Homo sapiens: one gene and its partners. The protein of the gene in region 1 interacts with the protein of each later gene in a pairwise test. Each region holds a gene or a part of one and is shown on either strand. Other genes may lie near its edges.

Region 1 (3,653 bases):
GTGGACCTCATCCACGAAGGTGATTGCTCCAAACTCATGGGCCACATCACACAGCTCTTCCAGTGGGCACACCGCCCCTGAGGAAAGACCAGAGACTGCTCTGAAGAGCTTTTGCCGCTTCAGAAATTTCTGTTTTGGTTAGAGTCAGAACAACGTAAACTTCTATTCTAAGGTATCATTTTCAATATTGGAAAGAAAATGAACTTCCTCTAATTTCTAGGTTACCTGGGGTCCCAGAGCCTAGTAAAAGCCAGAATAGAAAATCCACTTTCACCCAAATCTATTAGAAAAAAGTCCACCAATTACAAATCTTGGCAGAATGCAATACTACACAGCAATAAAAAAAGAATGAGACCATGTCCTTTACAGCAATACGGATGGAGCTAGAGGCCATCCTAAGTGAATTAATACAGGAACGGAAAAACCAAATATCGCTCTCACTTATAAGTGGGAGCTAAACACTGAGAACACATGGACACAAAGAAGGGAACAACAGACACCAGGGACCGACTTGAGGGTGGAGGGTGGGAGGAGGGTGAGATCAAAAACTACCATTGGGTACTATGCTTACTACCTAGGTGATGAAATAATTGGTACACCAACACCCTGTGACACATAATTTACCCATATAATAAACCCGCACATGTACCCACTGAACCTAAAAGTTGGAAGAAGAAAAAAAAAAATCCTGGCAGAAAGGAAAAGAAAATTAAAAAACACAACAGGCCAGGCGCGGTGGCTCACGCCTGTAATCCCAGCACTTTGGGACGCCAAGGTGGGCGGATCACAAGGTCAGGAGATTGAGACCATCCTGACTAACACAGTGAAACCCCGTCTACTAAAAATACAAAAAGTTAGGCCAGGTGCGGTGGCTCACACCTGTAATTCCAGCTCTTTGGGAGGCTGAGGCGGGCAGATCACAAGGTCAGTAGATCGAGACCATCCTAGCTAACATGGTGAAACCCTGTCTCTACTAAAAATACAAAAAATTAGCTGGGCGTGGTGGCAGGCGCCTGTAGTCCCAGCTACTCAGGAGGCTGAGGCAGGAGAATGGCGTGAACCCAGGAAGTGGAGCTTGCAGTGAGCCGAGATCACGCCACTGCACTCCAGCCTGGGTGACAGAGGGAGACTCCGTCTCAAAAAAAAAAAAAAAAAAAATTAGCCAGGCGTGGTGGCAGGTGTCTGTAGTCCCAGCTACTCGGGAGGCTGAGGCAGGAGAATGACGTGAACCCGGGAGGCGGAGCTTGCAGTGAGTCGAGATCGCACCACTGCACTCCTGCCTGGGCAACAGAGCGAGGATCGGTCACAAAAAAAAAAAATTAAAAAACACAACAAAACACCATACTTTTAAAGAGTTCAGGCATAGTTTTTCATCTTAGGTTTCAGAGGAACCTCTATCCACACTTACCATCCATTGAATGGACAGTTTCAAATGCCACAATCTTGGGGACTGAGGGGTCAGATCTTTGCAGCAGTTCTCTGAGGTGGCTGACATCATTGTGGCGGAAGATGTACTTTGGCACTCGGCTGTTTCGAATCCCTTGGATCATGGAGGCATGGTTCCCAGAATCAGAGTAAATCTCACAGCCTAAGACAACAAAAATGCTATTTATTGCCATGTGCATCGAAGACAAATTATTTCCTAGAGAAAGACAACAGACTTTTCCTTGGAAATGATGCTTTGAAAATGCCTAGTAGGAAAAAGACACTGTGTGCCAGTTTCTTCCTGGCAAAATAACTAGTTAGTGCTTCCCTTGTGAGAAGGCCCAAAGGTGTAGAATAACCTTGTGGCAGGCCATTAATCTGCTCTTAAATCTGACTGCCTCACTCCAAACTCAATCAAGAGCTAACTAAATGATTAAGAGACTTCTCCAAAGGATCATCTTAGAATACAAAACATATTTGAGGCAATTAGCTCAAGGATGAGACGTTTCAAGTTTGAATTTTCACTGGTATCACGTTCTCCTGGAACCCATAATGTACAGTCAGCATTTCATGCTTGACCCCAGAACAAATGCCCAGATAGGATTATGATTTTCAATTGAGAGGTTCTGGTAAGGCTTCTTTGTTGCCAATATTCTTGTTATTACTAAGAAACCCAAAAAACTCGAAGGCACTCATGCCAGGCTTCCTTACCTGGCATCATCTTAGCCAGGGTGAAGAGGGTTGAGTCATTGGCCACAAAGCACGAGGAAAACAAGAGTGCGGCATCTTTCCCATGGAGGTCTGCCAGCTCCCGCTCTAAGTCCACATGGAATTTACTAGTTCCAGAAATATTTCTAGTACCACCTGCCCCAGCACCATGTTGTTTCAAAGTGTCCCTGTTTAAAAATACAAACAAAACCAGAAAATAAAGCTCATGGTTCTCAACACCATGTGAATTTTTTCCCCTTTCTAGGATCCAGGAGACTGAAACATGTTGATGTAGCAACTCTCTCACTGTGAAACCTGGGGTCAGAAATTTCAACTGATTTCATCTTCAGACTAGGTGGGAGAAGGTGTCAATGCTAGGGTGATGATACCTCCAGGAATCATCAAGAACAAGTGTTCATTTAACAGTCAGTAAGTGCTTGGTATTAGCTGAGTTTCTTTTCTAAGAAACTAAGGTTTATTTTCTGAGAAACATTATTCTTTCCAATAACATGTTAGCTTAAGAAAAAGCAAACTCTAGAGGGACATCCTGGATGGTGGTTACCCTCTGCAAGCCAGTCATGTAATGTTTGGATATATCACTATCATTAAACCTCAAACCGGGACCCTCTTTAGCAAGCCTTTGGAGAATCTGGCCAGCAACTCTCTCCAGCATCCCTAGGATGGTGAGCCTCCTGAAGGACGAGTGATGGGATCTACCATCCTTTTTAACATGTCTTTTGGAGTAGCTTTTTCTCTAGCGCTGCTAGATTCGTATTTCTCCACTCACAGCCACAACCAAGGATGTCTCTGTGAAAGACTGCCTGGTGTTAAAGGCACACTCACTTGCAGAGTGATAGAAAGTGGACTGACGTGTGTGGTCATTGAGCCTATAAGCTTGAACCCTCACAAGTTAAGGGGCTCCAGCAGCTACCTGCATATTAGAGTTCCTTTAAAAGTAATCTGTAGATATTTTTCAGAAGCTAAGAATAGTATTTTGCTATGGCACACTTTCAGCTACTGAATGTTCCCTCCATAAAAGATCCAACCCCTATACATCATCATTGGCTTGCCAAATAACAACAGTAATATTTGAAAGCCAAGGGCTACTTACATAACTGCCCCACACACCCGTGGGTGGCGACTCATTCCTAGGTAGTCATTACTGCACCAGACTGACACTTGCTTTTTGGTGATGAGGGAGTCTGAATAGTCATCTGCCATGGGGAAGATGTGTGCTCGCCGGTTCACAGTTTTAAAAACTCGATAGGTGTGGTCATTCTTTTTCTCATCAATTTTTTTCTCAAAGAAACGATCATACTGAAAAGTGGAAACAGCTAAAAATTGAACAAAAGACAGTACAGAATGGTGGTTGTGAAACACAGCTGCATTTTGGTGAAATACAACAAGTCTCAGCTTGGCAACTGAGGGAGATCCTGGGCAGGTTATTTGATGTCCTCATCTTGTAAGTAAATAAGACTGTATGTCGTGTTTGGCTCAGTGCCATGTGTAGACGGTAAGTA
Region 2 (3,653 bases), on another chromosome or scaffold:
TAAAAAAAGCTATTCTGATACCATTGTTACTATTAGTAGGATGTGACTTAGAAAACAACACAAATATTACAAATTTTGACAAATAATTACTAAAAGTAAATAAAAAGCAACTTTATTGGAAATCTCTCTCTTTTGAACACTTTTACTTTCCATAACTTTATGGATATGTGGATGTGTATACTTATTAAAATGAGTCCAGGTGGCTGGGCGCTGTGGCTCACGCCAGTAATCCCCGCACTTTGGGAGGCCAAGGCAGGCGGATCACCTGAGGTCAGGAGTTTGAGACCAGCCTGGCCAACATGGTAAAACCCCATCTCTACTAAAAGTACAAAAAATTAGCCGGGCATGGTGGCTCGCGCCTGTAGTCCCAGCTAGCCAGGAGGCTGATGCATGAGAATCACTTAAACCCAGGAGGCAGAGGTTGCAGTGAGCCAAGATCGTGCCACTGCACTCCAGCCTGGGTGACAGAGCAAGACTCCATCTCAATAAAAAATAATAATAATAAAATAAAAATAAATAAAATGGGTCAATGTTGAGCATCAATTTAATTCTTATTTTTTGTTTTTATCAATGTAATGCTGGGAAACATAATGAGGAGATGGAAATGGGAGGAATTTTGTTATAGAAATGTCACTTAATTTTTTGAACTCCAACATCACATGGTAGTGAAATATCAAAACTTATTTTAATTGTCAATGTAAGGAAAAATTGAGAAGACAAATTTCATGAGTACCCTAATACTTATTCATCTGGGTCATCTCAGTCATTCATTGTGTTTGACTAAGCTATTTTACAACCCTGTAGAGATATAAGTTAAGTTGCAGAAAACTGATAGTAAAGCAAGTCATACAGACATGCAAATAAACTTTATGCTGTAGAAGTCCAATCACCTTCCCTCTCCCATTGTGGAAGAAGCCAGTTTTACATGTATTAAGCAAATTCATTCCAGCATTCTTATAAATGATCTCCTTTGAACTGACTGCAAAACCTTTCTGGCTCTCTCATTTTTTAAATAAGTTTGAAAATGTCTATTTTTTATTTGTATGAGAGTCAAAATTTCATTCTTTTTTAGAGTTTATCCTTTAATATCGGTTTACTATTTGATTAGACTGGCCTTCACTTTTTGTTTTTTAAGATAGATTTAGAAAACACATGATTTGCAAAAGGGTCTCTGCTCAGGCATTACAGTCATTTGCTTTCTCACCCCTGAAACGAAATTTATACTCAGAAATTTCCCCCTTTTTTGTCCTCCCCATCCCCTAGAGTTTTACATCCTTGGGCAAAGCAATTTACTAAAATGGGTTAGACATAAACCATTTAGTAAAATGGATTAGGAAAATGGGGTAGACATACGCTTTTCACAAGGAAAGCAAGAGGAAGGTGATTATGGAAAAGCAGATGGGAAAGAGAACTTGCGTCTCCATTACAGGTCCATTCTCATCAAGATTAGTCTTAGGAAAAAAGCACATATGGAAGAGGAGGATTTGGACCTTTATATTCTCAAAGCACCTGTGCACATGTACCTTTGGCAAACCTTTGCATATAGTAAATGCACACAGTTTAAAGATTGCTGAACCAAAATAAGAAGCATAAAAATGAGTTCCATCCCCAATTATATATTATATAGAGACTCACACTATTAACAAGTCTCTTTTTAAAATTTTCAATTACTGAAGACTTTCAATTGATAATTGTCCACCTTCCATTCAGAAAGAGGCATTGAGGGGAGTGAATTCCTAAGGAAGAGAGAGGCTGTTCTGAAGCAAGATGGAAGGAGGGGGAGTGAAGGGTTGTCTACAGTGAGAACTTTGAACACAGAGAGGAGTACTAAGAAACAGAGAAGAAATTCAAATGGAGGAGAAATAAAAATGTAAACTTAAAAAAAATTGCCTAAATAATTGTGGATCTGCATTGTACCCTGAAAATCTCTAGCCACAGCTTCTAGCATGACTGCCGAGAGATAGACTATCTGCATTTAGCCTACCTCATGTCAAGTAACCAATCAGTTGAAACTGTCCATCAATCAACCTAACTCATTAGGCCAGACATTTGGTTTTCCTGCCACTGGAGAGGGGTGAGTAGCAATACCAGGACAGTATACATTCGATGGAAAGATCACACTTATATCATATTGATCTATCACTTGCACAGTTTGGGTAATACACAGGTTACTATGTTAGTTTCTTTCAGGCTGCTGTAACAAAACACCACAGACTGGATAGCTTATAAACAATAGAAATTTATTTCTCACAGTTCTGGAGGTTGGGAAGTCCAAGATCAATGCAGATCAAGGCCCACTTTCTGGCTCATAGATGGCACTTTCTTGCTGTGTCCTTACTTGGCGAAAGGAGCAAAGGGTCTCCCTTGGTTCTCTTTCATAAGGGCACTAATCCATTCATGAGTGCTCTACCCCATGACCTATTCACCTCCCAAGGCCTTCCACTCCTAATACCATCACAATGGCAGTGAGGATTTCAACATAAGAATTTTGGGAGGACATAAACATTCAGACCACAGCAGCTTCGAAGCTAAGATTACAAATGGATGCCTCCAACTCCAGTATATCACACTATAACCAGACTGAACTATACATGCAACACTTGGAAGCCTATTTTACCTGGTTCTGAAAAATCTGATCATCTCATTTTCTTAGTGTGGTCCAATTTAACTGTTCTTGTTGCCTTAGGATAAAATAATTCATTTTCATAAGAATCCAGTGATTCTTTTTTTTTTTTTTTTGAGACGGAGTCTCACTCTGTTGCCCAGGCTGGAATGCAATGGCGCGATCTCGGCTCACTGCAAGCTCTGCCTCCTGGGTTCACGCCATTCTCCTGCCTCAGCCTCCCGAGTAGCTGGGACTACAGGCACCTGCCACCACGCCTGGCTAATTTTTTTTGTATTTTTAGTACAGACGGGGTTTCACCATGTTAGCTAGGATGGTCTTGATCTCCTGACCTTGTGATCTGCCCGCCTCAGCCTCCCAAAGTGCTGGGATTAGAGGCATGAGCCACTGTGCCCGGCCAAGAATCCAGTGATTCTTCTCTGACTAAAACTAAATAGAAACAAAGTAGGAAATGATGACAATCATCCGAATAGATCCTTTGTGACTTATGTTTACAGCTTAAGTGTCATCTTCTATTCATTCTATCTTCCTTCACTGATCTTCATTTTTGCATCCCCAGATGCTAGGGATATAGCAGTCACTCAACATAGGGGGAGTAAGTCAACCAATGGATCCCAGAATTTCTCTGGATCTCCAAATGGAATGATGCAAAGTAACAGAGGTTATTTTCTCATTAAACTGTGCATAATAATAGGACAACAAAGCTGTCTATGTACTACAGGTCTGTTTTGTGTGTGTATGTGTGTGTGTGTTTTGAGATGGAGTCTCATTCTGTTGCCCACACTGGAATGCAGTGGCATGATCTTGGCTCACTGCAACCTCCGCCTCCCGGGTTCAAGCGATTCTCCTGCCTCAGCCTCCCAAGTAGCTGGGACTACAGGCACGTGCCACCATGCCCAGCTAATTTTTTTTTTTTGTATTTTTAATAGAGATGGGGTTTCACCGTGTTAGCCAGCATGGTCTCAATCTCCTGACCTTGTGATCACCCGCCTTGGCCTCCCAAAGTGCTGGGATTAGAGGCGTGAGCCAC
Region 3 (3,653 bases), on another chromosome or scaffold:
TGTCATTTCCACACGCTCATTCTCCTTCCATGCCCTCTGTGCTGCTCCAGAACAACCGGGTGCTTTCTGCCTCACAGCCACAGAACCCAAACCCGCTTTCCTGAGAGCATCTCAGGCCCTGTGGCCAGGATGGGGATCCAGAGACCCGGAAGGCGTCTCCTGCCTCGGGGCTCTCATCCTGGTGGGAGGGACAGAGCTGCAGCCACTGCCTGTGGTGATGGGCTGAGGGCAAAGGGGGGGGCCAGGCATGCAGGGGGGCTGCCCACCACCCCACCCCAGCAGGCAGGGACAGGGAGGGGGCATCCCAGGGGCATTCTAGGCAGAGCCACACTGGGCTCAACAAAGGGCAGTCGGGAGAATGGCACAACCCAAACCGCTTCCTAAAATTCTCGCGGCTTCTCTAATTTTCTCGGTATTCCCTTTCTTAATAAGCCTTAGATAAATACCTCACTTTGCCATTTCTTAGGTTTTAATTTTCAAGCCACACTAGTTTTTAATTTCATTAAATCTTTTCAAGCTTCGTAAAGTTTGCCAAATCACTATTTCTTTCTCTCATAAGGGTTAAGATTTTAGTATCAGGAATTACTCGATTTAATTTGATACAGATTTATCTGAAAGCGAACTGTAAAGAGGCGGGAAAGTCGACCGGGCAGCGAGAATGGCACACCTCATGGTCTACATATTTTCTTCTTTCTTTCTTTTCTTTTTTTTTTGAGACAGGGTCTGGCTGTCGCTCCAGCTGCAGTGCAGTGGCCTGATCTCTGCTCACTGCAGCCTCCACCTTCTGTGCTCAAGGGCTCCTCCTGCCTCAGCATCCCGAGTAACTGGGGTGCCCGGCTAATTTTGTTTTTAATTTCTGTGGAGATGGGGTCTCCCTATGTCGCCCAGGCTGAAATTCTACTTTTCTTTTTTTTTGAGACAGAGGTCTCGCTCTGTTGCCCAGGCTGAAGTGCAGTGGCACGATCTCAGCTCACTGCAGCCTCTGCCTCCCGGGTTCAAGCAATTCTCCTGCCTCAGCCCCCCGAGGAGCTGTGACTATAGGTGTGCACCACCATGCCTGACTTATTTTGTATTTTTAGTAGAGACAGGGTTTCACCATGTTGGCGAGGCTGGTCTTGAACTCCTGACCTCAGGTGATCCACCTGCCTTGACCTCCCAAAGTGCTGGGATTACAGGCGTGAGCCACTGCCCCTGGCCAATTCTATGTATTTTTAAAGTTCTCCTTTTCCAGCGTTTAAAAGCTGGTGACGTCGCACCCACTGCCTGATGTGTGCAGACTGCAACTCTTGTGTCTGAACTGGCACCAGCCTTCATTTCTGGTTCATTCTAAACTCTGTGGTCGGGTAACAGGTCACCGCCGCCTGGCCCGAGGCCCCAGCAGCAGCCCCGGGAGCCTGGAGGACCTGCATGTTCCGAAGCCCACCCAGACCTGCCGTGTTGGATGCTCTGGGGGGTCCCCGCAGCCTGGGTTCTACCAAGCCCTCCAGAGGATGCAGGTGCCCACCACAGTCTGAGGACCACTGGGCTCAAGAAAGAGTGAGGCAGGATGCGGGCAACCTCTTTGTGCCTGTTTTCTCCGCTATAAAGTGGGGCAGGAGCACCTGCTGGGGTGAGAAGAGCACTGTGGAGAATGAAAGCTTTTGGGCTTCAGGGAGTGCGGCGTGGCATTCGCTCCCACTCCTCCTCCTCTGTGCCCACTGCGGCCGAGCCGCAGGAAGGCAGGATCTTGCCTGTTTTGTTCATGGACACGTCCCTGCCTCAAAAACCAGGCCCGGCATAGAGCAGGGGCTCAACAAATACGTGCTGAGTGTATCTCACTTGTATGGCTAGCTACGGTGTAACCCCAACAAAACCACGCAACCTTGTTGAATGAAGTAAAGGATACCTGTGCCTGAAGTTACAGAAGAGCTTCCACACAGATATCCCAGGCTGAATTTCTGCACAAAGTTCTTGCCACTTTGACTAATAAGCTCAGAGTGATTATAAAACTATTGTTTTACAGGCCAGGCATGGTTGCTCATGGTTGTAATCCCAGCACTTTGGGAGGCCGAGGTGGGCAGATTGCTTGAGCTCAGGAGTTTGAGACCAGCCTGGGCAACAGGGCAAAACCCTTTGTCTACAAAAATATACAAAAAAAAAAAAAATTAGCTGGTCACGGTGGCATGTGCCTGTAGTCCCAGCTACTCGGGAGGCTGAGGTGGGAGAATCACTTGAGCCTGGGAGGTCAAGGCTGCAGTGAACCGTGATCGTGCTACTGCACTCCAGCCTGAGTGACGGAGGAAGACTGTGTCTCAAAAAAATTTTTAAAAAATATATTTTAAAAACTATTTTTTTTCCAATTAATACTTCCACTTGAACAGTTTGGGGTGGCCTCTGTCACCTGCCTACCAGATGTGAGAGGCTGGTGGCCTGGCGTCTTGGGGTTCCAGCACCTGGGGTTCTGGAGTGAACTGCGTCCGTCATGGTGTCTACTCTGTGGCTTATGCTTGGGTCCAGGGGGCAGGATCTGGTTTAGAGCAATCCAGGTTCCAGTCCAGACCCTGCCACGTTCTGGCCCCGGCACATTTCATGAGGCCCTTAGCTTCCCGTCTGTGAGCAGGTGGGGGCCCACCTCTGACGGTGCTCAGTGGATTCAGTCAGGTAACATCTGTGAAGGCAGTCGGGGCACGACCAGCGGGGAGCGAGTCTGCATTATTCTGAGTTACCTGAAAAGTCGTATCTGGCAAGACCCAACCACCGTTTCTTCTCACTGTCCTTGATGATGTCCCCGTAGAAGCCGTAGCCCAGCAGGGACACGGAGTAGCGAAGGAGTGTGCTGTTGTGGTGGACTGAGGACACATCCATGGCCAGCGAGTCCCCTGTGGGAGAGAACGGCCGTGAGGGAAGGCAGCCCCCCTCCAGCCCCGCCCCATCCACTCCATCCCCTTCAATAGCACTTTGCAAACGTGGGAGTTACTTTTAAAAAGTGTGAAACAAACAGAACGCATTCAGTGCAAGGATTCTCTCTCTTGGGGTGTTGGATGCCATATTTTTTATTCAAATGACTGAACTCCACTCAAATTTCTAAAACAGGCTCGGGGAGCTATCCTGTGGGGACTGAACAAGAGTGTATCCGTGAGGCTCATGAAATATCTTTAACTGAAAGGACGGTGGTTTTAGAATGAAGAAAAAGTACATGGCATTTTAAAATACAAAATCAAGCCGAGTGCAGTGGTTCACGCCTGTAATCCCAGCACGTGGGGAGGCCGAGGCGGGCAGATCACCTGAGGTCAGGAATTTGAGACCAGGCTGGCCAGAATGGTGAAACCTTGTCTCTACTAAACATATAAAAATTAGCCAGGCATGGTGGCGTGTGCCTGAAATCCCAGCTAGTGGCGAGGCTCAGGCAGGAGAATCGCTTGAACCCGGGAGGCGGAGGTTGCAGTGAGCCGAGATCATACCACTGTACTCCAGCCTGGGCCACACACAGAGTGAGACTCTGTTTCAAAAAAAATAAAATAGGCCAGGTGCGGTGGCCCGCGCCTGTAAGTAACCCCAGCACTTTGGGAGGCTGAGGTGGGTGGATCACCTGAGGTCAGGAGTTCGAGACCAGCCTGGTCAACATGGTGAAACCCCGTCTCTACTAAAAATACAAAATGAGCTGGGCGTGGTGG

The links.
Region 2: the proteins of ALAS1 (region 1) and CAP2 interact in binary tests that used the Homo sapiens proteins (3 or more experiments, as listed by UniProt).
Region 3: the proteins of ALAS1 (region 1) and CERK interact in binary tests that used the Homo sapiens proteins (3 or more experiments, as listed by UniProt).

What each region holds. Positions count from the first base shown.
Region 1 is NC_000003.12:52,204,507-52,208,159, reverse strand, and holds part of ALAS1 (5-aminolevulinate synthase, non-specific, mitochondrial isoform 1 precursor), read right to left. Parts: intron 3,468-3,653; coding exon 3,245-3,467; intron 2,322-3,244; coding exon 2,137-2,321; intron 1,589-2,136; coding exon 1,409-1,588; intron 78-1,408; coding exon 1-77.
Region 2 is NC_000006.12:17,399,951-17,403,603, reverse strand, and holds part of CAP2 (adenylyl cyclase-associated protein 2), read right to left. Parts: intron 1-3,653. UniProt on the Homo sapiens protein: Involved in the regulation of actin polymerization.
Region 3 is NC_000022.11:46,696,608-46,700,260, forward strand, and holds part of CERK (ceramide kinase), read right to left. Parts: intron 2,859-3,653; coding exon 2,706-2,858; intron 1-2,705. UniProt on the Homo sapiens protein: Catalyzes specifically the phosphorylation of ceramide to form ceramide 1-phosphate.